Regions from separate parts of the Homo sapiens genome. Here all the other regions are linked to region 3. The links come from fine-mapping of genetic effects on plasma protein levels. A gene starts in region 3. Each other region holds a variant in brackets. All regions are shown on one strand. Distances are between the middles of the regions.

Region 1 (8,181 bases), 26 kb after region 3:
TTAGAGCCATAAGTAAATTCTGGCTTTGAGTCTTGGCCTTGTCATCTTGATCAAGTCAGTTACTCCTTGGTAAAAGTTTTCTAATCTGAAGATGAAGGAACTGGACCACATGAACATTTAATATCTTGTAGGTCTAAAATATGGTTCCTTATTTAGATTCATCAATTCAATAATATTTGCTTAGTACCAACTATATGCACTCTCATTATGAACTGTACTCCAGGCAGAATGAAATTCAGATATGATAATAAATATTATTATAATAGCATCTCACATTTATGCAGAGCCTTCTGATTTGCCGAAGAGAAAATTTACTTTGAGTCTCTGGGATTCTGTGGCTTTAGGAGATCAGGACATATCTTAACAGAATGTTAGAGAAAGAAGAAGCTATTCTAGAAGTACAAATAGAACCTTATTCCTAGGAAACAGAAGAGGTCATACCCAGGTAGTAATAAGGAATAAGCACTTTTTCTGCCATGTCTAGCAGTTGCTTCACTTTGTTTTTTTAAAAAAGCAACAAAATTACCTTTTTTCTGAGTATAAAATTTTTGTAGAAAATTTAGAAATTATTAAGAAGTATTAAATAAGGAAAAAAACCATATATCCAATCTAATATCCTGCTTTTCTTTACCTAATAATATTTTATCATATTTTTCAAAACATTCTTAGTAGAATCATTTTAATTGCTGTATGTATAATAATTTTATCTTTTTGGTATATAGTAACTTATCTGATGTCTTACTGTTGGAAATTTTATTTATTGACAATTTTTATTATTCTAAAGAACACTGTGGATAAATAGCTTTGTTCCATATCAAAAATCATACATTGGACACATGATTTTCAACTTTAATATTTAAGGTTTAGTAAGACAATTTTAGCAAATTATATACTTTTGACCTTTAGAGTCTTTGATTCTGTTGATATTGTTTTGTATTTACCCAGATTTTATTCTGTTTCTAAACATTTATTAAGAAGAACATTTTGTTTGAATTCTTCAATATGATATGTTTGAACTGGAAATAGCACCACTGTTTTCATATTATTTCAAGTAGGTATGATAAAGTGTAGGGTTAACAATTTTCTTTTTCAACTTTCTGTGGGAGATATCCTCTGTCTAGTATAAGGTTTGTTGGTTTAGAAATTGCTCAATAAATGTTCAATAAATAAAAGGACTCATGCTAATTTAGGATAAGCAAAAACATATGAGAGGGTGTTTAAAAAACCCACTTCTCCATTTATGATAATAGCTTTCATTCTCATAAGGAGAGATAACAGCTAAGCACAGTTCAGGAATTCTGACTGTTGAATGAGAACTGTAAAATGAAGTATGTCGGTGCTTTAATTCACCTGAATGGGAAACCATGACTCAGATAGTTATTTGATTAAATGTTAATGAGATCTACTAAATTGACCCAATTCTTACTTTTATGTATTAGATTTATATCAATTAAAACAGGACCAGTTTTACCTGTTTTCCTTTTTTAACATCTTTGAGTCAACATCTGCTTACAAGGGAAGTGCTGTAACTACCCTGGTTATTTAAATATTAATGGCTTCCATTAAAGGGAGCTAGGGATTGGCAGCAGGAAGATTGAGAAATTAGATGGCATGATTGGTTTCTTGTTTCTGTCCCCAGGGGAAAAAAAAAAAACAAAAACCTCTTACTGGAAGAGCTTCTTCCATTATTTTTTTTTAATATTGCATATATATATATATATATATATATATATTTTTTTTTTTTTTTTTTTTTTTTTTTTTTTTCTGAACCAGTTAGAGAGTAAGATTGTTGATTTCAGGCATCCCTTGAAAGTAGCTGTGCTATAAAAGCATCAGTGTAAACAAGTTCAAGTAATTTAAAAAAATGTTTTCACAGTGCCATAGAGGTCATTACCCTGGGGCTTCTTGGGAACCTAATTTCAGTTCCTAAATTCATTTTGTTCTTTATTATAGTCAGTAATAGGCAAAAGCATTTTTTAGCTCCATCCTGGATTTGGTTGGCCTTATTTACATTAAGTGTGGGGAATTCTAGTAAGTTAACCCTGAGAGACATGACAAGGGTTATATATTCAATCACATTATAATTATAAACCTTTATCTTACTGGGGAAATGTGCCTGAAAAGCTTTTAAAATTTGCTATAACCAATATTTTCATGTTATGCCAAATTGGGTTGTAATAAGCATGTCGTTAAAAGATTTTTACACGTTTTGTATTTTTAAGATGTTCTAATGGCTTGGCATTTTAAAGCACTGAACAAAAGCAGGCATTATATTTGCATAATTGTGTATCTCTTTTTGCATCCAGAAATGTGAATGTGTGGAGTACCCTTTCATTTCATGTATTTGATTTAGAATTTACAGCTAAGAACATAGATCATGCTTAAATAGCAGGAGTGCAGAGTCATGTAACGGCCCTGGTGTGCTTGTCATAATTCCCTACTTAGCAAGGTCAGGATTAGGGTGAGACAAGAGAGGCACTACCTCAGGTGTAAAACTTAAGAAAGTGTCAAAAAAAATTCAAGACTAGTAATATGTTAATGTAATAGTTAAAAAACTGTATAATGCAGAGAAAAATTAATGATAATAAAAATGGTCAACATTTTAGATCAAGATGAGATCTGACCCTGCATCTGTACCTCCCTCGCTTCTCCCTAGTCCTGGCCTTCTCTACTTTCATGTCCTTGCATGAGACACTCTTTTGATTCAAGTTTTCCTTACCTGAATTTGGTGACAATAGTCCTCACTTTCCTGGTGACAAGGATTTTTTTCCTTGGCCAAATTTTAGTCAGGCTTCTGAATCTCCTGCTAGGCCTGTTTGTGCACGTCCTTGTAAAATCCAGTTTTAGCAAAGGACACTAGCTAAGTCGTTTTACCAAGAACCAGCAACATCAACATCCGATCGCCTCAATGTCTGACCAGGTTTCTCATCCTGCACCATCCCCCAGGTGATGTCTGATCACCCTGGCCTGTCTTCAGTGAGAATCCTGTTAGGTTTAGCCAGATCCACCTTACCCCAACGCTTCCTTTGAGTAATTTTCCATCCACTGACCCCCACACTGCTCCTTGGCTATAAATTCCCACTGGCCCGTGCTGCATTTGGAGTTGAGCCCAATCTCTCTTCCTTGCTGCAAGACTGTTGACTGCAAGGTCCCTGTGCCTGTCATTATCCTGACAAAGTCTTTGTCTCCATGCTTTAACAAATACCATTCAGTCGTTTTTCTGTAACACTGGTGGAATTAGGAGATTCAAATCATCTACAAATACATGGGAAAGCCCACTATAAATATAATTTACATATTGATGTTCAAGTAAATAATTATACAGTTTTATGCCATTATTATTATAATCTCAGATGAATATTCTAAGCAAACATCAGATCTGAAGATCTTTGGAAAGCTTTGTGCTAATGGTTTGGGGCCTAATGTCTTTAATTTACTTATCAGCTAGCAATAAGGGGAGGAACCTAAGGGTAGTTGTAGGACCCTCCCCCCTTTCTTTCTTCCTTCCTGTTTTTGTTTTTGTTGTTGTTGTTCTTTGATACAAACTGGGGCTTTATAAGAGATAGAGAACATAACCAGAAATCCATTGCTTCTTTGAAATTTCCCTGAAAGGTGTGCATGGATGCCTGAGGTCTCACCTTTGCTTAAGCTGTTTCCACCCACCCATGATGCCTTTCCCATTTCTCCCACCTGTCTGAGAACCATTCACCTTTTATCCATATCCAACTTGGATAAGGCCTTTCTGTGATCTTTCGGCCTGAAATGTGCTTTCAATCCTCTGCCCTTCTGTGGTGGCATAATGGTTTCTACCACCCATTTATGGTCAGTTACAGAGTTCTTGTTGTTCTGAGTCTTTATCTAATCCTCCATTGAATTTACTTTCCAAACTGCATTTTAAAAAATGTCAGTGGTTCACTCCTATAATCCCAGCACTTTGGGAGGCTGAGGTGGGAGGATTGCTTGAGCTCAGGAGGTCAAGGCAACAGTGAGACGTGACTGTGCTACTGTACTCTAGCTTGAGCAACAGAGCAAGACTCTGTTTAAAAAAAAAAAATCAGTAATTGAAAAATTACTGACACTGTAAATCCCTTGAAGAGTCTCCCATTAGCCTTTGAATTTAAGAGTAAGCAGGGATTGGGTGTGCTTATTTATGGTGCTATCCAAGGTCCTTGCAGAGGGCCTTTACACACAATATTTTTTTTAAGTGAATAAATGAATTTCTTGCATGTAAAAGGGCCAGGTAAATATTTACTCTTATGATTCATTTTTGGAATGCTGTTTTTATCCTAGACCCTGAGAGATGGTTGGTGCCATGTGGAAGGTGATTGTTTCGCTGGTCCTGTTGATGCCTGGCCCCTGTGATGGGCTGTTTC[G/A]CTCCCTATACAGAAGTGTTTCCATGCCACCTAAGGGAGACTCAGGACAGCCATTATTTCTCACCCCTTACATTGAAGCTGGGAAGATCCAAAAAGGTAAGTAAGTTTAATTAAATCAGAAAACCACTGGCATGAGTTCAACAGTTTCTCTTTTTTTTTTTTTTTTTTTTGAGACGAAGTCTCGCCTGTCACTAGGCTGGAGGTCAGTGGCGCGATCTCAGCTCACTGCAACCTCCGCCTCCCGGGTTCAAGCAATTCTCCTGCCTCAGCCTCCCAAGTAGCTGGGATTATAGGCACAAGCCACCATGCCCAGATAATTTTTGTATTTTTAGTAGAGAGGGGTTTCACCATGTTGGCCAGGATGGTCTCGATCTCTTGACCTCGAGATTCACCCACCTCGGCCTCCCAAAGTGCTGGGATTACAGCTGTGAGCCACTGCACCTGGCCAATAGTTTTTCTTAAAACAAGTAACCCATAGGATGCAAAATATATTTCAGTATTTTTACTCAGTTGTTTTATTTCAAATATATATATATATATTTTGTTTGTTTGTTTGTTTGTTTGTTTGAGACAGAGTCTTGCTCTGTTGCCCAGGCTGGAGTGCGGTGGCGCAATCTCTGCTTACTGCAACCTCTGCCTCCTGGGCTCAAGTGATTCTCCTGCCTCAGCCTCCTGAGTAGCTGGGATTACAGGTGCCCACCACCATGCCTAGCTAATTTTTGTATTTTTAGTAGAGATGGGGTTTCACCATGTTGGCCAGGCTAGTTTTGAACTCCTAACCTTTGGTGATCCACCCTCCTCAGCCTTCAAAAGTGCTGGGATTATAGGCATGAGCCACCGCACCCAGCCTATGTCAAATATTAATGACTTGATGTCATATGTTGTCTGAGTTTTTAGCTAAAATGAGAATTAGCCGGGGTTGAATTACCTGCATGGTTGAGTTGCAGCATTTTATTTATAAGACTAGTAGAGTGCCTGTCCCCCAGTGGTCACTTAATGCTAATACTATCCTTAAAACTTACTATGAGTCAATCACTGGTTCCAAGCTTTCTGCATGAACTTATTTAAACATCTCAACATCCCGGGGAGGTGGACCCATTTTACACATGTGAAACCAAGGCAGAAAGAGATTGAGCTACTAGCCAGAGTTCATGCAGATATCAGCTGGTGTGTAGGCTTCATACTCAGCCTCACTGCAGCCTCCCTGCTGTGCCCCGTTATCCAGCAAGTCTGGGCCTTAGTTTTCTCATTAAGATAAGATGGAGCTTTAACAACTTACCCAACTTACAGAGATGTTATGAAAATCCAATGAGATAAGGCACGTGAAAATCTTTTGTACTCTATAAGTTGTTCTCCAAATATGAGTGTTTGCAATTGGCTTTATTTAGAGATTGTGGGTTTTTCTATTGTTATTACCAATAGGAAAAAAGGTATCACTTAGTGTTATCAGAGGCTAAAATTTATGACCTGCATCTGCTCTTTTTTTTTTTTTTTTTTTTTTTTGAGACAGAATCTTGCTCTGTTGCCAGGCTGGAGTGCAGTGGTGCAGCCTCGGCTCACTGCGCTCTGCACCTCCTGCGTTCAAGCGATTCTCCTGCCTCAGCCTCCTGAGTAGCTGGAACTACAGGCATGTGCTACCACGCCCGGCTAATTTTTATATTTTTAGTAGAGATGGGATTTTGCCTTGTTGGCCAAGCTTGTCTCAAACTCCTGACCTCAAGTCATCTGCCTGCCTTGGCCTCCCAAAGTGCTGGGATTATAGGCGTGAGCCACTGCCCCCGGCCCTGTATCTGCTCTTAATGCTTCTTTGCGCTTAATCACTGTGCGAGTAAATGATTTCAACTTTCTGGACTTCAGTAGGTTCCTAAGCTATAAAACAGTAGACAGGTAGCTATTCTGAGGAGCTGTTTGCAAAGAGCAGCAGAAAAATGGGGTAGTGGCTGGAGGGAGCACTGGGGTCCAGGAAGGGTCTTTAACAGAATAGGAGAGAATGTTTGTTTGCTGATGGAAATGATGAGTGGGGAATTGGTTTGGTTTGGGGAACCATTGTTGGAGACTGTGTTTAAGAAGGTGAGAGACAGGGATCTGGCACACAGGGGCCCCAAGGTTGTCCCTTGTCACAGGTGGGAAGGCAGAGATGGTGCCTGTGAAGCTGGCAGGTTGGCAGATGTGATGGGAATGAAGAAGAACACCGGAAATTTTAGACAAATGGTCATTTTAAAGATCAAAAGCAAATCTAAATACTCTATAAAGAAGTTTAAAATAAAGCAAGTTTTATTCGTTCAAAGTGTTCTCACAGCCAATAGGATGTCATTGTTTTTTGGTTTTCGTTTTACACGAAGACATTCTTGTATTTTAAGGGTATGTGTAAGTGCTGTTCATATGTCTTTTTCTGAAATACACATTGGCTTCAAGTTTCACCATCTCTTTTCTAAGGAAAGATGAAAAACTTTGATAATGTATTTAGTGTATTTTAAAAAGGACTGATTTTTACCTCACAAGAGAAGTCTTGGGAAGATGGCTGCCCCACCATATGGGCTGATACCATTAAGATGCTTGTGAAGAGGCAAAGTGTCGTTAAACCCTCCAAATTGGATTACATGCACGTATTTCAGCTTCCTTAACAAGTGGATTCTGATGGCTTAGATTTCTGTTCATTAACAGTAAATCAAAGCAAACCATTTAATGTAGGGATGAAAAGGAGTTAAGTAATTGTTATAACCAAATTCTACCAATCCACATATGAGGAAATTGAGACTGAAATACTTTATCCGAGTTGCCCAACGGGATGTGTGCAGTAGAGTTGGGTAGCAGAGATGGGTTTAGGACCCAAATCTTCTGACTTCTGCTCTGTGATTTGCCTACTATAATTTAGTTCTGTTTGTTTCAGAAGCTTCTAAAGTGTTCTTCTAAAGTGACCAGATGCATACACACAAAACAATTAAGGAATTAGGCAGTGCATACTAAAGTACTAAAGTATTACATTTAAAGTAAGTGCACTGGAGATTCGGAGGAGGAACCTATCCCTGTCGGTTGGCATAATCGAGGGAGAAAATACTAGAGCTGTCGTAGTTGTAAAAATAATAAGTAGCTAACATTTAGTCATTATATCCCTAGTACCTAGCATAGTACCTATACATAATAGGTATGTATAAATATGTATGGAATTTAAATTTGGGTACCAACCATGTGCCAGGCATTGTGCTTTACATCCATTAGCTCATGTAGTTCTCAGAGCAACCCTAATGAAGAATCCATAAGCATTGTTCCCATTTTACAAATGAGAACACTGAGGCCCGGAGAAATCAAATATCTTGCCTAGGGCCATAAAACTAGTAAGTGGCAGAGCTTGAATTAAAACCTATACTGGCCAACCCCAGGGCCCATGGTATGAACCACTATGCTATATGAGCAGCTCTGAATTAAACCCTATACTGGCCAACCCCAGAGCCCATGATATGAACCACTATGCTGTATGACCAGCTCTGGACTTCAGAGTGTCGGGTAAGATTTACGTAAATAGCGAAAGGTCTGTGCGTACCAAATGAGAGAAACAGCTTAAACAAAGGCATTAAGTGAAAGTGACCATGGTGTTTCTGTATCATACATCTGGTGGAACCAAGTAAAAAGAATACAGAGAAATCCATCTGAGAGACTACTGACATCTCTCCTGTTCTTGTCTTTCTTGCCTATGAGCATTTCTCAGTTATGGGTATTAGCAGCAGCCAAGAAAGATTCCAAGGGAGGTAGTTTTATCTTCCACCCTCCCATGTCAAGATTGGTAGATCTTCATCTGATGATTGACAAC
Region 2 (8,181 bases), 55 kb after region 3:
GGAATATGTGTGTTAAATGGAAGAGTCCCAAATTTTAGTTTAAACAGCTAAAAATATATAACCATGCCCCAGGCAGTATGCTAGATGTCTGGCAGCATGCACAAGCCAAGCATCTACATTTAAGGAGCTTTCTGTCTCTTGTTGGGAAAAGACTTGACTGCATGATAAGAAGACACCAGCATATGAGGCACAGCCTCATTCAAAGAACCAAAGATGATCAGTACTTTGCTCATAGTGGAGAGTGGTTACTGAGGTCTGGGGAGGTTTTGTAGGATTTAGTCACAGCCCTGTAACACAGAGAGGATTTGGGTAAGTTTGCTTGTGTGTGTTCTGTAGCCTTAAGTGAGTGTTCTGTGTGGTCACTGGTTTTACTGTTTCCTCTAGATACAGCCAGAAGATGCCCCAGTAGTTCTCTGGCTACAGGGTGGGCCGGGAGGTTCATCCATGTTTGGACTCTTTGTGGAACATGGGCCTTATGTTGTCACAAGTAACATGACCTGTAAGTATCCCTTGCACTGTATTTCCTATAGAATCTTTCATCTGAGCCTCATACCTGCTCCAAAACTAATTTAGAGTAAACACTGAACCACTATGAATAGCTTAACCGTTCCAGATTATCAAAACACAACTTTCTGGCAATATCCATCCGAGAAGGAGGAGCCTCGGGGTGAGTGTCCTGACTGGGCTGCTTTCTCCCTTGAAATTTGGGTGAAAAGTTCTAATCCGCTTTCTTGCAGTCTGCTGCTGACTCAAGCATTCTGGGTTTGCAAAACAGTTGGTATTTATTACTATTTGGGACAGCTCTTTGCAGTGGACTAATGGGTGGAATTATATTCTTAATTACTCACATGAACTAAACACTTTATGGTTCAGTCACACTCATTATCTGATAACTTGGAAGCAAGACGCTATTCCCGGTGGGGGCTGAGGCGGAGGAAGGATAAAGAAAGAGCAACATCTGGCTGTCACTAAGTTTACCTTCATCTCATTTTGTTTTTTTTTTTTTTTAATTTTGTTTACTTCCCCTGGGTCAGAATTTGGAGTGTGAGCCAGTTTGTGACTCAGTATAAAGGCTTATGTGCCAGTTTTGTTGAAGTAGTTCTGTTCAAGAGATGGAGCATTAAGGATGATTGATTTAATTGGACATATGGATATTATTGCAGAGGTGGTTGGTGGGTGTTTTTTCATGAACCAGCTTTGTTCCAAGCTTTTGCTGGGTTTTGTTTCCAAGCTTTATCTCAGGTGTAGAAACACTCTGGGCTGGGGGAAAGTAAAGGAGAGGAGTGGGGAGGGTAAAGGTGCAGGTGCCTGTTCCCCACCATGAGAGTGTGCAGCACTGTTAGAGGGTACGCCAACAGCTCATGAGGACCGTGGGGTGTGTTGGGCTTCTGACCACCATGAGGCCTCGGTGGAATGCTTGTCCACGACTCTATCTCACCCCTCTTCTTTGTTTTCACAGTGCGTGACAGAGACTTCCCCTGGACCACAACGCTCTCCATGCTTTACATTGACAATCCAGTAAGTCCGGGATGACCCTGTGAGCTGTCAGTGCTGGCGTCTCCTGTCTTTTATTTTTTCCTTTTTATTAAGTACATTTAAAAAATAGATTTCGTTTTTCCTTTTGAAAATAGAATTTAATCTGTAAAATTAAAACCATTTTGAGATTTAGTTTTTCTGTTAACATGTATAATCATATCGGAGTTTGGCAATTTTCCTTGCTGCCTTCTCTCATTTCCTCATTTTTTTTTTTTCTATTGAGATGGAGTCTCGCTCTGTCGCCCAGGCTGGCAGCTCACTGCAACCTCCGCCTCCCCGGTTCAACCTGGTTCTCCTGCCTCAGCCTCCCAAGTAGCTGGGATTACAGGCGTGTGCCACCACACCTGGCTGATTTTTGTATTTTTAGTAGAGATGGGAGCGTGGGGTGGGGGGTGTTCACCATGTTAGCCAGTCTGGTCTCAAACTCCTGACCTTAGGTGATCCACCTGCCTTGGCCTCCCAAAATGATAGGATTACAGGTGTGAGCCACCACGCCTGGCCCATTTCCTTATTTTTAATCCTATGAGATGTCCTGTTCACTGAATTAGGTAACCCAGGAGGAGGAATTCATTTCTTTTCACTAACAGTTTGGGTTCCTTATATCACAGGTTATTATATAGTGTCAGAACTTGTAATCTTTCACAATCGTCTAATCTTTCACATAGAGTTATAGATATAAAAAGTCAAAATGGGTCTCCACTTTTTTTTTTTAATTTTTATTTTTTTGAGATGAATCTCACTCTGTCACCCAGACTGGAGTGCAGTTGCACCATCTCAGCTCACTGCAACCTCCACTTCCCAGGTTGAAGCAATTCTCCTGCCTCAGCCTCCTGAATAGCTGGGATTACAGACTTGCGCCACCATGCCTGGCTAACTTTTGTATTTTTAGTAGAGATGGGATTTCACCATGTTGGCCAGGCTGGTCTTGAACTCCTGACCTCAAGTGATCCGCCCACCTCAGCCTCCCAAAGTGCTGGGATTATAGGCATGAGCTACTGCTCTTGGCCTCCTTCACTTGTTAAGACAAGCAACATGCTTCATCTCTGGACAAAAAGTGATACTCTCCTTGGGGAGGTCTTCTGATATTGGTTCTATTAAGGTGCAAAATAGGAGAGAAACTTAGGGTCAGCTTCTACAGATTTGGAGTATCTTTGCCCTCTTAACTAAAATCTTTAACTTCTCTCACTTTTCAGATGGTCCAAAAGAACACAAATAAAAGCGGAAAAAAATGTCAACATGCTCTTTCCCCCACCTTGTTTTGTCAGCCTTCCATTTTCCTCATCCATAACTGTGTATTTAAGTAAAAGATGAATTAAACATCCTTGGGTGTTTGGAAAACAAAAACACAAAAATCTTTATACCAGATAGGGAGTGCATTCCTTATGCAAATTGTTGACATAAAAATAGTAGCTTCTTCTTTTGAATTTGCAGTTCAGTTTCTTTTGAATTTGCAGTTCAGTTGTCTGTGAACTTCTAGGTTCTAATAAGAAAATATTAGTTTAAAATTAGTCTTAATTATGTTAAAACTCCTTACCTACTGAAGATGAAATGGCTTAATGGCCATATTTCTTGCAAATAAAGACAAGAAGGGGGAGGAGGAGGAGGAAGAAGAAGAAGAGGAAGACAATGTACAACTACCTTTTTCTTCAGCCTAAAGAGTTTCTTTCTTTTTTTTTTTTTTTTTTTTTGGAGACGGAGTCTCGCTTGGTCACCCAGGCTGGAATGCAGTGGCATGATCTCAGCTCACTGCAATCTCCGCCTCCTGGGCTCAGGTGATTCTTATGCCTCAGCCTCCTGAGTAGCTGGGATTACAGGTGCCCGCCATCATGCCCGGCTAATTTTCGTATTTTTAGTAGAAACGGGGTTTCGCCAGGCTGGTCTCAAACTCCTGACCTCAGGTGTTCCGCCCGCCTCAGCCTCCCAAAGTGCTGGGATTACAGAAGTGAGCCACTGCGCCAACCAAGAGTTTCTTCTTGGCAGGACAGAGCCATGCACTCTCCAGGTTTCAGAGAGGAGACAACTTTGGATCTTTTGATACTGTAGCAGGGGATGGAAAAGATGAATCCTTCTTCCTTAAATCAACATCTGGCAGGGTCTCCACTGAGGCACAGGACAGCTCAGCCACTGACCCCAGGGCAAAGCTCTGTGTTGCTGTTTTATTTGGGCTTTAGGGGGTGGAGAGAATAGGTGGCACCTAGCATCCTCCTGGGAGGAGGGCTAAAGGCATAGGGGGGCAACGGCAAAAATCTGAAGTCTGAGCTTGGCCTTTGGAACAAGGTCACCTTCCAGTGTGGGACCTCTCTGCAGGTCCCTAAGGCATGTGTTTCTCTGTGTTTATACCTGCGTGTTTATTTCTCCTGCAGGTGGGCACAGGCTTCAGTTTTACTGATGATACCCACGGA[T/C]ATGCAGTCAATGAGGACGATGTAGCACGGGATTTATACAGGTAAAATGCTCCTGCTTTCTCTTGGCTTTCCTAAGACCAAACATTTTTCTATCTCAATAGGAAAATTATTCTAGTGTTGGAATTTTTATTGACTGAGCCTTATAGTCCAATTCCTGAAGATAATTTAAGGATATTTTCACATCCACACACACAGAGCAGAATTTTTCAATTAAAGATTATTTTTTAAACCTTTCAACCAGACATCTGAAAGGTTTCTACTTGTTTTCCAAATTTGTATTTAACTTTGCATTTGCAGGGAGACAACATCTTTTCAGATATTTGTTTGTTTCTCAGGATTCTTCTTTTCGTGGCTTTTGGATGCAATTTTTTACTTTTTGCTTCTATTTCATGACTTTTCCAGGCTGAAAACTTAGCTTGTTAGTCTCTAGTATTCTCTCTTCTTCTTATGAAAGTTTTGTTTTGCTTAAAAAAAAAAAAAAAAGGAAAAATGTAAAGTTGTAAGTCTGGCCAAACAGTGTCCATATAATTTCTCCCTTTTTTCACTCATATTAATCATTGCTATTTTTAGCATTTTTAAAAAAAAGCAAGTGACCTTTCTTATTTGGTCAGATTTTTCCAGTCTACAAATTATTACTAGAGACCAAGTCCTAGATTCTTTCTGGTCACTAGGGCACCGCTTTATGTATTATAATAATTTACTAAAAGAACCCTAGTGGCCAGAAGGAGTTAACTAGCTCCCTACCCCACACCTCCACCAAGCACTCTGTTAATTACTACCAATCCTCAAAGCGAAAGTGCATCTAATAGGAGTCAGAGTTTGCTGATCTCTGACAAAAGCTTTCCGTTTTACTTTTCTTTCTCTCTGAGGCAGATAGGTGGCCGGGGGGAGAGAAGAAAGAACTACTTCCAAGCCCCTTTCCCAAAGATCTCTCCCTCTGCCCACCCAGAAAAGAATATGGCTGTTGTCTTCTCCACTTTTGTTTGTTTTTCACATGTTCCATGATTCGATCACTTCTATTCAGTTTCTAGGGGGATGCCCAGGGCCCCACACTTCTGCTTCCACATACAGTGGGGTCCTAGGGACATATTTGCCAAGATGCTGACGGGGTGTTCCCCCCAGCACCTCCTCCCCTTCCCTCCACAGACGTAACGGACGGCAGTCCTCCTCACAGGCTTCTTCAGAGCCAGGGCCAGGGCTCTCTTGGCACTGTGTGCTCTCTTTCTTCAGATTAGAAACCTACTCCCCGCCCCCACCTCCCATCCCTCTTTGGTTTAAATCCAAACAAGCTCAGTGGTTAACTAGCAAACACCCTGAGGGCAGAGGTTCTGTATTGAAGAGATGCATCGGGCCCCCTCTAAGACAGAGCATCACTGCCAAGCCGTTTCTGTCTTTCCTTCCCCTCCCCCAAAGACAGTTACAGCTTCCAGTTGCCCCTCCATATGGGGATGTCGACTGCTGACATGTGGTCCATCTCCTCTTTCCTGACATGTAAAGGGAACCTATTTCAAAGCATCTATTGTTTATAGCTGTTGTAGTTCTTTTTGCTTCGGGCTCTTAGAACTGGAAAATAGCTAATCAAGGGTGGTGCAGAAAACTGATTTCAGCTGTTTCCTTTATAGTTTACACTATTCATTTCCCTTTGTGACCACATTCTTCTCTCCAGCTCTCCAGATGGGTGTTTGGAATAAGAGGGTCGCTTCAAAACCTGCAAATGGGCTACTACAGGTTTAAAGAGTGGAGCTTTCATTTTCTCCCTTTGAAAACCAACTTTCTTTTTTCAGAAAATCTCATTCTTTTTGACTATTAATAGTGCATGGCTGTAAGGAGACATTTACCGTTCACAGTTTTGCTGCTTTTGTGTTTGGAAATAAAACTTTTTCACGAACAAGATGTTAAAATACTCTCCCACTTTTCTTATTTGGAATATGCTATTTAGTCACAATGCCTCTCTGGTTTAAAACAAATTATGAAATGTATTAACTTTGATTTGGAGTACACTAGCTGGTGCCAATCTCCTTCTGCCATTGTTTACCAATTGCCTATTATGTGCCAGCTGCTGTTCTTGGTGCTGGTGAGACAGTAGTAAGCAGTCCTCAAACCCCCTGCCCTCCTGGTGCTCAGTCTAGTGGTGGACCTATAGTTATTTTCTTAGCAGCCAAATGGAAGTGCTGCTATAGTTTTCTCCTACATGTTGGTTTGCAATGGGAAATGATATGTAGTGTTGCTAAACAAAGCTTCATAGCAATGCAGCTAGGAAGCAGGCTTCCTATATTAAATGAGAAAACTCTGTGTCCTGTGCCAGGTGGAGAGGATCATGGCTCAGCCTTGCTAGATGTAGAGTGAATGCAGAAGAGGCTCCCTTCACGGGTTCCAACAGAGCAGCACTGCCAGGATTCCTGTTGCTGAGCTTGTATCGGTCCAGTGCAAGGCAGATGAGCCCCAAAGTGGGGCTTAGCCTGTGAGGGGTTTTGGATTTGCCCAGGAAAGAATTCAAGGGTGGCCAGGTGTGGTGGCTCACACCTGTAATCCCAGCACTTTGGGAGGCCGAGGCAGGCAGATCACCTGAGGTCAGGAGTTCCAGACCAGCCTGACCAACATGGAGAAACCCCATCTCTACTAAAAATAGAAAAATTAGCTGGGCTTGGTGGTGCATGCCTGTAATCCCAGCTACTTGGGAGGCTGAGGCAGGAGAATCACTTGAACCTGGGAGGCAGAGGTTGTGGTGAGCCGAGATCACACCACTGCACTGCAGCCTGGGCAACAAGAGCGAAACTCCATCTCAATTAAAAAAAAAAAAAAAGAATTCAATGGTGAGATGGAGGTAGAAGAAAATAGCTTTATTGAAGGGGCAGTGTTACAACTCCGTGTCTGCTCCTGCAGGGCTACTGCCTAGTCCGAGTAGCAGCTTAGGGCAATTTTGCAGTTGTATTTAAACCCACTTTTAATTACATGCAGATTAAGGGTTGGTTCATGCAGAATTTTCTAGGGAATGGATGGTAGCTTTTGAGTCTTTGGGTCATTGCCATGGAAAGGGGTGGTAACGCCTGGGTGTTGCCATCACAATGGTAAACTGACATGGCCCACTGATAGGCATGTCTTATGGAAAGCTGCTTCCGCCCAGGCCCTGTCTTAGCTAGTCCTCAATTTGATCCAGTGTCCAAGCCCTACCTTTGTAGTTGAGTCCCACCTCTTACCTCAAGTCCACTGCCAGTGACTGTAGGTACACTTTGCTTGGCTTTTTTGGCATGGAACTTTTGCTTAGATTATCTGAAACTCGATTATCCTGAATGTTGCTTGTGTTTATGATTATGCTTCTGACTCTATTAGAACTGACCAGATTCCAGTGCTGTCTTTGGGTCTACAATGCATGATCATGTCCACTCACCTTTTCTGCCCTGCATCCACCCAATCTCTGTTTAAAAACTTATCTGAGGAATAATTTTCTCCTAGTCATTCTTCCTTGCAATCTGTTTCTCTTTTTGGTCCTTTAAGGTACCTTTCTGCGAGCAGAGAGCCCTTAACTAAAATTCTGTTTATGAGACAAGTCCTTAGCACAATGCCAGCAAGGTGGCCAAATGGAATCACCAAGAAGAAGCATGCTTCTTGTGCCATGTAGCTCTTGTACCTGAATAAATGCATGGAGTGTGCACTTGTGAACACACATGCTTATGTATTATTATTATTATTGAGACGGAGTCTCACTATGTCGCCAGGCTGGAGTGCAGTGGCGTGATCTCGGCTCACTGCCACCTCTGCCTCCCAGGTTCAAGCAATTCTCCTGCCTCAGCCTCCTGAGTAGCTGGGACTACAGGCGCCCACCACCACACCCAGATAATTTTTGTATTTTTAGTAGAAACGGGGTTTCACCACGTTGGCCAGAATGGTCTCAATCTCTTGACCTCGTGATCTGCCCGCCTCGGCCTCCCACAGGTGTGAGCCACCGCGCCCGGCCACTTATGTATTATATATATGTTTAGCAGATCTGCTTCTAAAATTTGTAATTTCATGTGGGCTTGATTCTAGATTCTATTTTCTAGAAAATGCTCACCATGTAATAAGAAGAGTTCTTGACTAAAATACAGTTAAATGAGCAAATGGCATATGTAAATCTAATTTACTAAATTTACTTTTTTCATTCTTCACTCTCTTTTAAGAAACAGGAGTGCTACCACGCTACTAAGTGCTTGCTTAAAAAAAAATAGCCAGTTTTTTGGCTGTGAAATAAAAACTGAAATTGAAA
Region 3 (8,151 bases):
CAGGTTCATCATAATATCAATATATACCTCGCAGGGCTGATGTGAAAATTAAAAGAGATGATATATATAAAAAGTGTTGGGCAAACCATAAAATCCTTACAAAGTTTCACTATGATTATTTCTCTTGGTTTTACACAGGGCTTGCTCAGCTGTCCTTAGTGGCCATGTCTATATTAATCCCATAATTTATCCTTAAATCACCGAAGTCTTATTTGCCTGGCTTTTTCCATAGCCGAAGGGAAACTGAAAATATGCCTTTTGTAAGAAAGCCTTAACACCTGCTGCTAAAGGGCGCTAAACCATCTGGATCGTCAAAGGAGTATAGGCTCACTTACAAAAGACGTAGATTAATTTGGACATTGTTTCCCTACATAAACCAGGCATAAGGAGGCAAGCAACCCAGGGAAGGATAATCATGCTAAGAGTGGAAGCACTTATTAGAAATAATTACCATGTAATTATCCACAACTTCCCTGGAGTCTGTAGCCTGTGGCTAGTCTTAGGAGGTGCCCCTTCCTTACCAAGTACAAGGAGACTGAAGCACTTCAATAAGTTGATCAGGGCATGTGTCTGTGTCTTAGAGCTTGGTTACCGCCACCTGGGCCTACTTCTCACTTAATGAAGCCTTCAATGCTTATAGCTGAGGTGCAGAACAGCTGTAGACTTTCTTCAGCTGGATCTACCACCCACCCCTCCCTTTTTTAATAGCACAGTGTTGTTTTGCAAGTGTGTGGGTGTGACACATCTGGCTTCGTTCCTTAAGAAAAGTGTTTATTGAACAATTAATTGTGGTGCATGGGGGCTGTGACATTTCTCTTTTCGCTGTGCCTCTGAGCTGTGTTTCCAGGCTACCCGGTGGCCCCATTGAAGATCAGTAACAACACTGAAAAGGAACAATGGCTATAGAAGCCTTGACAAGTGCAGGGAGAGACCTAGACACTTCCAAGAGGGGCATGATTGCCTACAAGGTTAATCAATTCCCCTTGTTTCCATTGCAGCTCCACATTTATCTTGCTGGCAGCAGCTGCAAATGTAAAATCAGACCTACAAACTTAGACAATTGGAATTGTATTTACCTGATCAAGATGTGTAAATGATCTATTCTCTGTGTCTTCTTAACTGGAATTTAAGGAGTTCAGCAAAGCTCCGGCTATAGGTCAGTGAGAAGCATGTTTTTGTGTGGTGTCCAGATACAATTTAGTTGTCTTGGATAGACAGTTGGAAAGAACTGCAGTCACAGCCTAGAATCTTGATTGTCATGATCACCATTATTATTGTTACAGCTGCCATTTTTTGAGCCTTTATATATGACAAGCACTTTATATGTACTACTATCTTATTTCTTCCTCTTGATAATACCGCAAGATAGCTAATAGTATTTTTATCATGTACAGATGAGAAAACTGAGATTAAGTAACTTGCTTATGGTCATTAGGTGCAAGGTTCTAGATTCAAACTGAGTCTGACCCATGCTCTGAACCACTAGGGCTTAACAAACCCAAACCTCACTAGAATATGCAGGTGCAGAGAACACAAGGGCTTGTGATCGACCTGACAGTTTTAAATCTTGTTTTCAGGAAAGCCAATCAAAGAAGGCTTAACGAATCTCTTTGCAAACCGATTTGTTGGCCAACCTTTGAATATTCTCAATACAAGAGAAGGGCTAAAAATATCTATTGCAGCAGTGAAGTGGCCTTATTTTGAAAATGAGTCTTCATAGAAGTAATCAAGCTAAAATGAGGTCATTAGAGTGGACCCTAATCCAATGTCATTGGTGTCCTCATAAATAGGTGAAATTGGGACACAGAGACAGACACATGGAGGGGAGACACTGTGAAAAGACACAGAGAGAAAGCCCTGGAAGGCTGAAGCAGAGATTGGGTTGATGCTGCCACAAGCCAAGGAACACCTGGGGCTACCAGAACCTAGAAGCAGCGAGGAAGGATCCTTCCCCTCCAGGTTTCAGAGGGAACCTGGCCCTGCTGGCACTTTAATTTCAGACTTGTAGCCTCCAGAACTATGAGACAATAAATTTCTACTGTTAATAGCTGCTCAGTTACAACCTCCCTGGAAAGCACATACTCCTGTCCTATGGTTCTATTCTGTTCTGTACTATTTTGTTCTATTTTATTCTCTTTCATTAAGAAAATGGATTTCCAGGCTGGGCACGGTGGCTTACACCTGTAATCCCAGCACTTTGGGAGGCCAAGGCAGGTGGATAACTTGCGGTCAGGAGTTCGAGACCAGCCTGGCCAATATGGTGAAACCCCGTGTCTACTACAAATACAAAAAATTAGCTGGCTGTGGTGGCGGGTGCTTGTAGTCCCAGCTTACTCGGGGGGCTGAAGCAGGGAATCGCTTGAACCCGGGAGGTGGAGGTTGCAGTGAGCTGAGATTGCGACATTGCAGTCCAGCCTGGGCGGCACAGTAAGACTCTGTCTCAAAAAAAAAAAAAAAAAAAAAGGGAAACAGACTTCCCAATCTACTAATTTTGAACAACATCAGTCTCTAGAGCTCAGCATTCTTGCCCTTTCCAAGCTGGCTCCAGTCTAATTTTCTAACCTCAGTATTAGTTAACCCCCGACCCACCCTGAACACGCCTGGTGTCGCACAGTCCATCTGTCCAAGAGCACAGCATCAACCTGAGTGCAGGTGGCCTGCTCATTGCCTGTGCTGCCACCTTTCCCCTCAGTGGCTATTCATTTTTTAATGTCTAGCTTCAAGTCACCTCCTCTGACAGGATTCCCCTGGCTCTTCGGGCAGAGTCATTTGGTCCCTGTCCTCTGTTCCCCCACACACACACTTTATCAGCCCCAATTACAGCTCTTATATTGTATGATGGGATCAATCTGTGTGTCCCCTTCATCCCTTCCCCACAACTAAACTTCAAGTTCCCTAAAGAAGACTATCTTTTTTCTTGTTTTTTCTTTTTAATCAAGTGTCTAGCACAGAACCTGACACACGACAAATCCGAATACAGGGTACCCCAAAAAGGTCAGTGCAGTTTTAAGCTTTAATAACTTCTTAAGTCGAAATGCTACAAACTTACAAAACTCATTTGAACGTTTACTTCTTTTGACTCTGTTTTAATTATTTTAATAAATGTAATTTTCTCTTCTGGTTAATGTATGCCATATTTCACTCAGGGGAACTGAAACAAAAATTAAAGTTAAAACGTGTTATTCAACATTCACAGAGATAAATAGTGTTAAATTAACTTTCAAATGGTGTTCTTATAAGTTGCAGCATTTATAGCCTTGAGGTTACTAAAACTGCAGGAAGACTTTTGGGACACCCTGTTTTTGAATAAATATGCTTACAGCATGGCTCCTCCTGTGTTTACTGTAAAATTCAGTTTAGTTTTTAAGTGGTTCCACGTGGGCACAGGTATTCTTTGGCCAGTAGTTGTCCTTATACTTAGACCCAAGGAGCCCTTGTCCAGGGCCCACACTTTAGAAGGCAAATTCCAAATTCCCTCCCCAAATGGCACTGAGCCTGCTTCAAGGGTCTGCACGCCAGCAGCAGTGTTATCTGCTAATGTCTGTACTCCCATGGGCGAACATTGCTGACTCTGGTGTTCATACTCTTGTGCCCAAGAGGTGGCTGGGGGACAGCTGCTTCTGGGAAGCTTGACCGAGCTTCCACCAATGGACTAGAGCCCTGTGGGAAGAGAGGAGGTGGCTGCAAACCAGGAACTGGAAATCGCCTCTCCCTGCACCATCATATTTAAGTGCAGATCATCCAAAGTTTCAATCTGGCCTTTCATGTCAATTCCCAAGGTATATTTGTCTAGGTAGGAAGGTAGAACTTATTGTACTTAATCATTTGTTAACTTTGTTTATAACTTTTAAATATTTAGGTATCTGGCCTACAGATCTCTGTTTGTACTTTTGCCCTGGGTCCTGCATATATTAAAGGTGGGCTGATTTTGGCCTTAAAAGAATTATTTTCCCACAAACAGATTTTTCTCCTTAAAGAGCTAGGTGGGTAGGAAGTACTTCCATATGGAAGGTATGATAGCAAAGAATGACTGCAGTCACTGAGCACATACTTTGTGCTGGGTGATTTACACATAGTTTTTCAGTGAGTCCTCACAACAACCCAATAAAGTAGGTACTTAGGAGAAAACAGATATTCAGTGACATTAGTTTGTTCCAGCTCGTAAAACTAGTGCTTTAGTTAGCCTTAGTTGCATAACAAACTACGCGAAACTGAAAGTGGCTTAAAACAATTTTTCCCCCTGACTGTCGGGTTGGCTGGGCTGCTCTACTGCGGGTTTCCCTGGGCTCACTCCTGCAGCTAGCTGTGAGGAGATGGAGGTTGGCCCGGGACAGTGCAGAAGATTCCCCGTGGCCTCTCCCACCTGTCTGGCAGTTGACGCTGCTGTTGCTGATAATGATGACCCTCCTTTATTTTGTGTTATCTACTTGCCATTGCAACCTCCTTGCCTTTTTTAGTTCTTGCTCCCGTACTGTCTGGCTCGATGCCCAGCACCTGGTGGTGGCTAATAATATACACTCAGGTCACTTACAAGCAATGTGACCCTGGATGGGTTACTTAACCTCACTTAGTTTGTGTCCCCCAATTGCAAAATGGGTATAATGGTACAGAACACATCAGGTGGCTCTGAGACTCCAGCGCAGTGATTCAGGAGAGTGCTTGGCAGGACAGTGGCACTTGGTGCGAGCTTACTGCTAGTGCAGCTGGAATGTAGACCATCAGCGAACGTGTGTTGCCTTTTTAAACAGTGGGAATCAAACACCACTCGCTTTCCAAATGTAAATCCTGGGCTTGCAAGTAAGTCCTAGAGTGCAGAAATAATTTCAAAATACAGGGTTGAAATTTTAAGATAGCAGCTTTTAAAAACTGGGAGACAAAATCAAAATAAAACAAAGGGACAAACCAACCTGAATGGCACCCCGCCGATGCTCTTCATTAATTTTTAAGATTCCACCCTGGGGCTGCTTGCTTCTTCCAGCATGGGAAGCGCTGACTTGATGCGGCCAGGTTTCTGGGACCAGGAGGTTGGGACACGACGACGCACTTTTTGCCCTGTGGGTCTGGGTCATGTGAGCCTAGAGGAGCGCTTAAAGGCTCGAGTTCTGCAGGGTCCTCGTGACTGGGTGGGGCTGCCTCACTTCTGCCTGATTTGGGAAGCGCTGCAAGGACAACCGGCTGGGGTCCTTGCGCGCCGCGGCTCAGGGAGGAGCACCGACTGCGCCGCGTAAGTGCCGCCTGCCCTGCGTGGGTCGTGCCAGCTCAGCGGGACAGGTCCTCGCCTCGGTCCCTCGGACTTAGGGAGCGCGGGGCAGGTAGTCTCAAAAGCCCTCAGCACCAACAGGGGAGAAAGCACCGTAGAGTGAGACTGGAGTGGGGTGGTCGTGGCCGAGTCAAAGTTCAAATTGGAGCATTGGGGATGTACTGCGTGCGCCCAGCCGAGGGAATACTCTTGAAGTTTCCTGGCACAACTGTCGCACCCGGGGTTCTTCCAGGCTAGAAGCCGTCTCCTACTCCAGGAGCTCCTCCGGGGAAGTACGAAGCTGTGGGGTCCTCTGCCGCTCTTAGCGCGGGAGGGTGGCGGGTGCAGGACACTTTCCCTTACTCCCTCAACGCGTGTTTTGGGGATGTGTTGATTTCGTGGGTGCTCAGAAGCAAGAGAAGCGGAAAATACCTTCTATTTTGAACGTGCCCAAAGCAGGGAAACTTGGCTTCTGCCTAGGAACGCATAGGAAGACTTTTATTCTTGGAATGTAGGATTAGCAGAAACCAAGGGCACAGGAGACAGGTGGAAGCAGCTCCCTGTGAAGTGATACAGAAACAAAAGGACTTTGGAATATTTGTGGATTTAAATCCCAGTTCTGGCCTTGGCTAGTGAGTGACCTCGGGCAAATTATTTAAGCCTACTAAACCTCAGTCTTTCCATCTGAAAGATGGAGATAATAAGTTTTTCTTTTTAAAGAATTGTTTTATTGGAAATAGAAATAACATACAGAAAATGCCTCCCTAGCACGGGACTTGGCTTTTCAGCTAAGTGTAATTTTCCTTATCAGTTATGATTGATGATGAAGTCTATGGTGAAGACAGAACAAAATAATGTTTAAAACTCTGGCCATATAATGACTGTGGCTATGCATGACCCGTGTGCAGTCACCTCTGAGCCCCCCACCTTCACTGCAACCCCAGTGGGTCCCAAGCAAGGTGCTTGGGTTTTGGAGCTGGACAATTCTGTGCAATTCCTGGTTCCGGTATCCACTACTTGGATGACATCAGGGACGTAACTTATCTTCCACAGCCTCAGTTTTGGCATCAGTAAATGAAAAAGGAGCCCCTCAGTACTTGCCTTTCCCTTCCCCGGCTAAATGTACAACTCATTTTTTTTCCATTCTTTGCTTTGGGATGAGTAAGAACAAAGATGTAAGCAGAGTAAAAAGTCCATTGAGAATACATTTTATTAGCTTGGTAAATAACGTTTAAGAAAGTTGTCCAAAAGGAGAATTGGAGCACTTTTGGAAAAGTACACTGCACCGGCTTTGTTGGCATATGAAAGTCTGCATGGTCGTCAAGACCGTTTGGCTAACTGGGCATTCTAGATGTGTACCTCATGCTAGTCTAAGTACAGGGGCAACCCTTTATAATGTAGTGTCAGTGTTCTTAACCAGATGTTGTTTTATTAATCTTTTATAGGAGATGATTGTTTGGGAGGGGCAATTGATCCCCCAATTTATATAAATCCAGTTTATAAATCACTTTATAGTGGGATTCTACTAGCCTGAGAAATAGGTGGGTTTTGACTGACAGTTTGAATGACTTAGAAGAGTGTTAAGAAAGTCCACTGGGTTTACCAGTTCACTCCCCACAAAAAATAAAAACAAGAAGCAAATAATATAACAGAATTCTAAAAATGAGTTTGTTTTTGTTTTGGGAAGCATCTAGTTTGTCAGAGGAAACACTGAGTGTTGAATACTACCCTGGGATGCACAGAACTAAGGCAATGAGAGGGGAGGAACTCAGTTCTTGCCCCAGGTATCATCAGATATCTGTTTATTAGCACCCAAATACTCAAGGTAAATAGTAATGACCCATTCTTTCTTTTTTTGAGACAAGAGTCTCACTTTGTCACCCAAGCTGGAGTGGCACCATCTCTGCTCACTGCAACCTCCATCTCCCGGGTTCAAGGGATTCTTGTGCCTCAGCCTCCTGAGTAGCTGGAATTACAGGTGTACACCACCATGCCCGGCTAATTTTTGTATCTTTGGTAGAGATGGGGTTTTGCCATGTTGCCCAGGCTGGTCTCGAACTCCTGACCTCAAGTGATCCTCCCACCTCGGCCTTCCAAAGTGCTGGGATTACAGGCATGAGCCACTGTGCCTGGCCAGTGACCCCTTCTTAATAGGAAGTATGGTTCACTAAAGAGCAAACATGATTGTTTTAGTTTACCATTTCCGATGGCTTTATAATGTGAGATTTTCATTGACTGAACTAAGAACATTTAAAAGAAGTAGGCAAGCTTCTCAGAATTAGAAAGATACCTCTAGAACAATGACTCATTAACGTCTATATTGACTTGTGAGAGAGGTAAGCTGGGCAAAAAGCTAAGAACTGTACTTTCCTGGTAAAAACAGTAGTGGAGTTTGAACTTTTATACTATATTTGCAAGCTCAAAGATGTAAGCCTTAATAGACAGTTCACAAGACAGCTGTTACAGCGTATCTGAACTGAAACCAGGGTATTGAGATTGCTCTCCCTTAAGAGATATTAGAGGTATAACCTTGAACATGAAATCACATGCTTTCATTGCTTTAACTCAGACCCTGGGGTGCAGGACAGGGTGGTGGTAGTGAAAGAGGGGGAAGGACTGTGTCCTTAGATCTTGGAGCCTGAAAAAGCAAATTCTTAGCAGCTTATCTTTCCAATATAGTTGGAACTTACCTCCTACCTTTTTCTCTCTAGTCTGATTCTAGTTATTGGTTGTCTTTAAATTGCTTAGAATTGTTTACAGGCCAAAATATTTACTTTGAACCCTAAAGGTAAGCTCTTCCTCCTTTCCTTTTTGGGACTCTGTATCCCATTACCCCTCTTTCAAAAAGATAGTGCCACATATCTTTTTGTACTGTATGATTCTTGGGAGAGAATGTAACCCAGGTCCCAAGC

Direction of the effects. Alleles are on the strand shown, and positions count from the first base shown. The strength of an association depends on the size of the effect and on how common the allele is.
With allele A in place of G in region 1, the plasma level of the protein whose gene starts at base 5,116 in region 3 is lower (strong association).
For the plasma level of the protein whose gene starts at base 5,116 in region 3, T is the high allele of the variant in region 2 and C is the other (moderate association).

Evidence for each region. PIP is the posterior inclusion probability: the model's chance that the variant is causal. Protein levels are from antibody-based Olink assays in UK Biobank. Linkage for the fine-mapping came from a reference panel and not from the study's own genotypes, which makes the PIPs less certain.
Region 1: its variant is fine-mapped to the plasma level of the CPVL protein (UK Biobank, PIP above 0.99). The variant lies in the coding sequence of CPVL. If it changes the protein, the assay may bind it differently, which can mimic a change of level.
Region 2: its variant is fine-mapped to the plasma level of the CPVL protein (UK Biobank, PIP above 0.99). The variant lies in the coding sequence of CPVL. If it changes the protein, the assay may bind it differently, which can mimic a change of level.

Annotation. Positions count from the first base shown.
Region 1 is chr7:29,117,181-29,125,361 of GRCh38, reverse strand. It overlaps CPVL (carboxypeptidase vitellogenic like), which reads left to right. Exons shown (of 13, transcript NM_031311.5): 2 at 4,291-4,469. The coding sequence starts at 4,301. It overlaps LOC128966558 (a long non-coding RNA gene), which reads right to left and starts at 2,927. Exons shown (of 3, transcript XR_008485572.1): 1 at 2,720-2,927. The variant G/A (reference allele first, on the strand shown) is at 4,374.
Region 2 is chr7:29,088,421-29,096,601 of GRCh38, reverse strand. It overlaps CPVL (carboxypeptidase vitellogenic like), which reads left to right. Exons shown (of 13, transcript NM_031311.5): 4 at 385-499; 5 at 1,460-1,518; 6 at 3,900-3,979. Among named protein-coding and RNA genes, the nearest start is that of CPVL-AS1, 12 kb to the right of the region's middle. The variant T/C (reference allele first, on the strand shown) is at 3,939.
Region 3 is chr7:29,143,502-29,151,652 of GRCh38, reverse strand. It overlaps CPVL (carboxypeptidase vitellogenic like), which reads left to right and starts at 5,116. Exons shown (of 13, transcript NM_031311.5): 1 at 5,116-5,224. It also overlaps a transcript of CHN2 not described here.